Regions from separate parts of the Homo sapiens genome. Here region 2 is linked to region 1. The links come from fine-mapping of genetic effects on gene expression. A gene starts in region 1. The other region holds a variant in brackets. All regions are shown on one strand. Distances are from middle to middle. Region 1 holds the start of MLYCD (malonyl-CoA decarboxylase). Region 2 has its middle 16 kb from the start of OSGIN1.

Region 1 (2,908 bases):
AAGAGACAAACACCAGAGTTTGGACCCCACCAACTCCCTTAGCCAGCTGGCAATATGGTTTCACCACTTCTTAGAAAAGAGGAATGGAGAGGTGTCCTCAAAAGCCACCACTAGGCTTTCAGAATGTTTTGTGTGTCTGTGTCTTGGCAGAATGAGCCAAACGTACTTTCTTCGTGCCCCATAAGATGAGACACACCCAGCAAAGGCTGTCCTCATACAGAACTACCTCCAGGTGTCTTTTATACTGCAAGACCTGCACCAAAGGGTTCTACCTATAGAAATCCTAGCACCTAGACATAGTCAACCAAGTACATGGCTCCCTCACCCTCCAACCAAAGATGCCATATTTCCATCAGAGTGGAACAAAATCCCACTGTGTTCCTAATGCCTCCTGCAATTTTGCATGTGGGAGACATGGCTGGTATGTGACATTCTCTTCTACAGATTGTAATGGATTGGGGAAGGAGGGGGAACTAGAGTTCAGGCCTATCTTTCTAGAGGACAAAATAAATATGCCTTGATAACTGCAATTATCTGAAAACTATTTCAAAGAAAACTCTTTGTCTCATTCTGGCATTTGCTCAAGGGTATGGCTTTCCATCAGTCTCTCTGTCTCCATGTCTCTTTTACATACATATGTATGTGTATATGCGTGCGTATGTGTACATACATCCATACATATAGACATATTCTCTCTCTCTCCACACACACTCACACACCCCTCCAACCTCTGTGGCTCTGAGCGTCATGTGTGTAAGACACTGACGCGAATGGTGAGTGCCTAGGCAGGGGTCAAACAAAGGCTACCTACCATGCCAGAGGATTGCCACAAACACCTCTTAAGCAAGCATATTCCTTGGCTCCTCCCAGACACACTGAATCTGAATCTCTAGGATTCTGATTTCGGAGCCCAGGAATCCTCCGGTGCAGGAGTTCCCAGGTGACTCTGATGCACCGGGAGGCTGGAGGCGCTCGGATCTAGAGAGGAGGCGGCACTTGTGCAGTGCAGTCGGGAAAGAGAGGAGGGGCTGGGCCGGTGCCTTTAGGCGGTCAGGTGTTAGGACCGGAGTACAAGCCGCCAGCCGCGCGGGAGCAGGCCCCGAGGCAGCCCAGCCGCGGGGCAGTAACCTTTAGCCACACTTGGCCTCCGGCCGCCGCCAGAGCCGCTCCGCCCCCGCCGCCTCGCCCCCACCGCCCCGCCCTCCTATTGGCCGCGTCCCCAGCCGGGCTCGCGGCCTCGGCCAATGGGGCCGGCGCGCGCCGGAAGCCGGAAGCGCGGCAGCGGCGGCGGCGCTCCCCCTCGGCAGCTGTTGTGGGGCACCATGCGAGGCTTCGGGCCAGGCTTGACGGCCAGGCGTCTCCTCCCGCTGCGGTTGCCCCCGCGGCCGCCCGGGCCCCGGCTGGCGAGCGGGCAGGCGGCCGGCGCCCTGGAGCGGGCCATGGACGAGCTGCTGCGCCGCGCGGTGCCGCCGACGCCGGCCTACGAGCTGCGCGAGAAGACACCGGCGCCCGCCGAGGGTCAGTGCGCGGACTTCGTGAGCTTCTACGGTGGGCTGGCCGAGACGGCCCAGCGGGCCGAACTGCTGGGCCGCCTGGCGCGGGGCTTCGGCGTGGACCACGGCCAGGTGGCGGAGCAGAGCGCCGGCGTGCTCCATCTGCGCCAGCAGCAGCGGGAGGCGGCGGTGCTGCTGCAGGCCGAGGACCGGCTGCGCTACGCGCTGGTGCCGCGCTATCGCGGCCTCTTCCACCACATCAGCAAGCTGGACGGCGGCGTGCGCTTCCTGGTGCAGCTGCGGGCCGACCTGCTGGAGGCGCAGGCCCTCAAGCTGGTGGAGGGGCCGGACGTCCGGGTAAGGGGCCGCCGTCGATCCCCCGGCAGCGCGGACTGGCCGCCCTCCTCGAGTAGTCCTCACTTGCCCCCTCCAAGTCCCACACACCCCGCCTTCCCTGCCCGATAGCACGCTCACTTCGCCCGCAGTTACCGCCTGCCAACTGTGTCCCCTTCCCACGCTGTCTGAGTCCTGGCCTCGTCAGAGCACACCCCCGCCTTCCTCCAGTCTGTCCTTGAAGTCCTCACTTGTATAGTGTTTACTAAATACTCAGCACTTGGTGGTCTTTAAGGTAGCTGTCACCTCTCGTACCTGATTAGTGTGTGCTCTACAGTCTTTTGAAATTATTGTAGCTGAGAAGTGTTTCATCTATATGGTATACCTGAACTAGAGCATCAGGCAGCCTTCTGAGACCCTGGATGGTGTTTCAGAAGTTCACTGGGCACCCGCTATGTGTGAGACATTGTCCTGAGAAGTCCTGTGAAATGCACAAAGGTAAATAGGACTCAAGGTCACCACCACCACCCAGGAGTCTCCATGGCTTCTGGCCTTGTCTGTGCTCCATGACTTTTGGGAGGGCATTTAACTCCCTGCGTTCAGTACTTAATGTGATGATTCTGAGTTGACTTGAGGTAATCAGGCATTAGCACAGTTCATTCATGTTAAATGCAGACACATACTTTGAGATTTAAATGATTATGACCCGAAAGAAGGCCTAGAGCAACATATACTCTTCTTTTATACTGTTAGTATTAAATACGGCGAAAAACTAACCTGCCCTTTTTTTATTTTTATTTTTGTTGCCCAGACTGGAGTACAGTGGTGTTATCACGGCTCACTGCAGCCTCGACTTCCCCAGGCTCAAGCAATCTTCCCACCTCAGCCTCCTGAGTAGCTGGGACTACAGGTGCAGGCCACCATGCCCGGCTAATTTTTTTTTTTTTTTTTTTTTTTTGTAGAGAGGGCGTTTCACCATGTGGCCCAGGCTTAACCTGCCCTTTTAATGAACGAAAAATGACGTAAATGTTTCAGGAAGTTTTGGACATTCAGAAGTTTGTTATGTGCAGTTGGTGTTAAAA
Region 2 (2,908 bases), 38 kb after region 1:
GGCCTCACCCACCCACCCAGGTGGGACCCAGCCCACCCGGCCCTCCCAGAGCTGAGTGGCTCACACAGAGGGACACCGTGTCCCTAAGCGCCTGGGACACAGCCCCATTGCCCTCGCAGCCCAGCAAGACTCCCAGCCCCATCATCACTCCGCCCGCTTGCCTGCTGCTTGCCACCCAGAGCAGGAGGCAGCATGCCTGCCAGGGCACCCAGCCTGCAGGGACGGGCAGGCCCGCTGAGCCCTCCTTCCAGGACGTGGAAGTGTCAGAGACACAGCTCCCAATTAAGGGCCTGGGCAGCACCCAGAAACCCTGGACCTCTGCCAGCTGCAGACTCTTCCTAATCAGGGGAAAAGACCCCGAACCCAGGCAGGCTGACCCAGCATCCAGACCCAGCTCTGTCTCCCCAGCTCCTCCGCTGCTAATAACAGTAATAATAACAATGGCAGCGACCATTGCTGCAGAGGTTACTGTGTGCCAGGCACCATTCCCAGCGCCACCCGTCATTCTCAGTCACGGGAGATGGCTGCTGTTTTCCTCTCCATTTTGCCCTGAGGAAACTGAGACCCAGAGTGGTTAAGTCACTGGCCCAAGCCACACAGCCGGGAAGCAGCCCCTGAGGCTGGTTCCTGACTCCACTGCCTCTCGGCCCTGTGGGGTCAACCCTCTGTCCCCCTCTCCGCTATTGCCATCTTCACCCCCAGAGCTCCACACCCTCGGGTCCTACTGCTGACCTCAGACCCACAGGGCCCTGCCAGCCCCCAGGCCTCTGCCTGTGCTCTTCTTTCTGCCTGGAGTGCTCTTCCCGTGGCCGGCTCCCCACCCACTCCTCGGGCCTCAGTGGAAAAGCCCCCTCTTCACAAAGGCCAGCCCTGGTGGCCCATCTTCCCCCCGCATCAGGACCCCGTCTCGCCTTCCTGCTCACTCATTCATTGAATGCAACTGTACTGAGCATGCGCTGAGTGCCGTCTGGGCCAGGGATGAAACAGAGAATGAGGACAGCGCGGTCCCAGCTTTGGCAGACCTGACCTCCGGCACAGGGTGTGCGTTCTTGGGCACAGCTACCAGCATGGCCGGTGCTGTCATCTGACCTTCTCCTTTCCATCCTCCTTCTTAAATATTCATGAGCTCATGGGATCGTGCCTGAGATTAGCTGGTCTTCCCGTATGACCCTGGAGAATCACTGATCGTCGTCGTCACCCAAGTGAATCCTTGTTGCGCTGCCCCTAGGTCCCCCTCATCTTGGGCTCTCCCCACCCAGCATCTGCCATTTCCACCCTCAGGAAATCCCTCCTGCTCCTCAGTGGGAAGACAGAAGCACCAGAGTGGCTTCAAAGGTGAGTCCTCAACTGACAGAGCTTAGGGCCGGTGTGGCAGATGGCATGCC[C/G]TGAACTGGCTCCCATGCTTCCCAGAATGGCCGCTATCTGTGGAGTTCTGTGGAGCACAGGCCTAGTTTGAGCCCCTCAAGACCAAGTTTTGAGTCTCCTCATTTTACTGGTTTCTCTTTTCTGAACATTTTCCAACTTGGTGTTTCCATTAAGCTGTGGGGCTCAGAACGTGGTTTCATTGATCAATGACAAATCAAGCAGGACCATCACCTCCCACATTCTGTAGACTATGCCCTTATTAATGTGACCCAAGATTGCAATATAGAAAGATCATCATCCTCTTGCCTCTCCCACTGATCCTAGCTCTAAGGCAGTGGTTCTCCCCAGCCTACACAATGCAATCATTTGAGAATTTAAAAAATCCAGGATTATCATCTCTGGAGATGGTCTCAGGTGATTACGATGGGTAGCCAGAACCAAAAGATGGAGATGCTGCTGTCCCATGGCCTCCTAGTCCTCTGAGCCCCAGCCACTATCCCTAACTCCTTAAGTCCCTGGTCTCCAGGAGTTTAAGGGTGACAGTCGGCATTTATGCCAGCTGCTAACCATGGTTCCCAAAGTGTGTTCCAGGGAGCAGTAGTGCTGCAGAGTGCAAAGCTGCACATCTCTTTCCAACTCCACTGTTCAGAAGTATTACACTGGTAACGTGACATTGATCATGGTGGGAGTGTTCACGCCACAGATATTGGTGGACTGCAAAACAGGGCTTTCCACAGTGCCCCCCAAGGCTGGTGGTTGGTGGTGGTTGTTTTTTCTTGACATGGAGTCTCGCTCTGTCACCCAGGCTGGAGTGCAATGGCATGATCTCGGCTCACTGCAACCTCCACCTCTCACATTCAAGTGATTCTCCTGCCTCAGCCTCCTGAGTAGCTGGGATTACAGGTGCCTGCCACCACACCTGGCTAATTTTTGTATTTTTAGCAGAGGCAGGGTTTCACCGTGTTGACCAGGCTGGTCTCAAACTCCTGACCTCGTGATCCGCCCACCTCAGCCTCCCAGAGTGCTGGGATTACAGGCGTGAGCCACCACGCCCGGCCCCAAGACTGGTTGTTAAACATTTGTCAACACAGCACTGTCCTGACCACCCACTCCTCTCACCCTCTGGACTCTGTCACAGCCACCCATTGATCAAAAGCAACCAGAAGCCAGCTGGCCAAAGCGCGTAAGGGTGCAGAGCCTGGGGCTCAGCCTCCTGGAGCTCAGAGCAGGACAGAGGAGGTGGAAAATGGATGGGGGAAGCCAGTAGAAAATGATCAGCCTGCCCACACCTGCTCTCAGGGAGACATGACACGTGCAGTCAACATGTTCCTCTGCGTGAGGCAGACCTGCATGCCAGCACTGAGCCAGGCGACCACCTGGTAGCTGGATGATCCATCAAGGAGGCTCTGGTGCCCTGCTTATGTAATAGACCACGTCAGCCCCATGTACTAGAACCTCTTTTTAATTTTTTGGAATAGTGATAACATCTACTCAAAGAAAACGATGCTCCATTTTGATTGATTCATCTCTGACACATTCCTAG

The links. PIP is the estimated chance that this variant, and not a neighbour inherited with it, causes the effect.
Region 2: its variant is fine-mapped to the expression of MLYCD in anterior cingulate cortex (GTEx, PIP 0.97).

The regions. Positions count from the first base shown.
Region 1 is chr16:83,897,823-83,900,730 of GRCh38, forward strand. It overlaps MLYCD (malonyl-CoA decarboxylase), which reads left to right and starts at 1,293. Exons shown (of 5, transcript NM_012213.3): 1 at 1,293-1,850. The coding sequence starts at 1,323. RefSeq lists silencers at 1,063-1,492, 1,793-1,962.
Region 2 is chr16:83,935,850-83,938,757 of GRCh38, forward strand. No RefSeq gene overlaps it. Among named protein-coding and RNA genes, the nearest start is that of OSGIN1, 16 kb to the right of the region's middle. The variant C/G (reference allele first, on the strand shown) is at 1,386.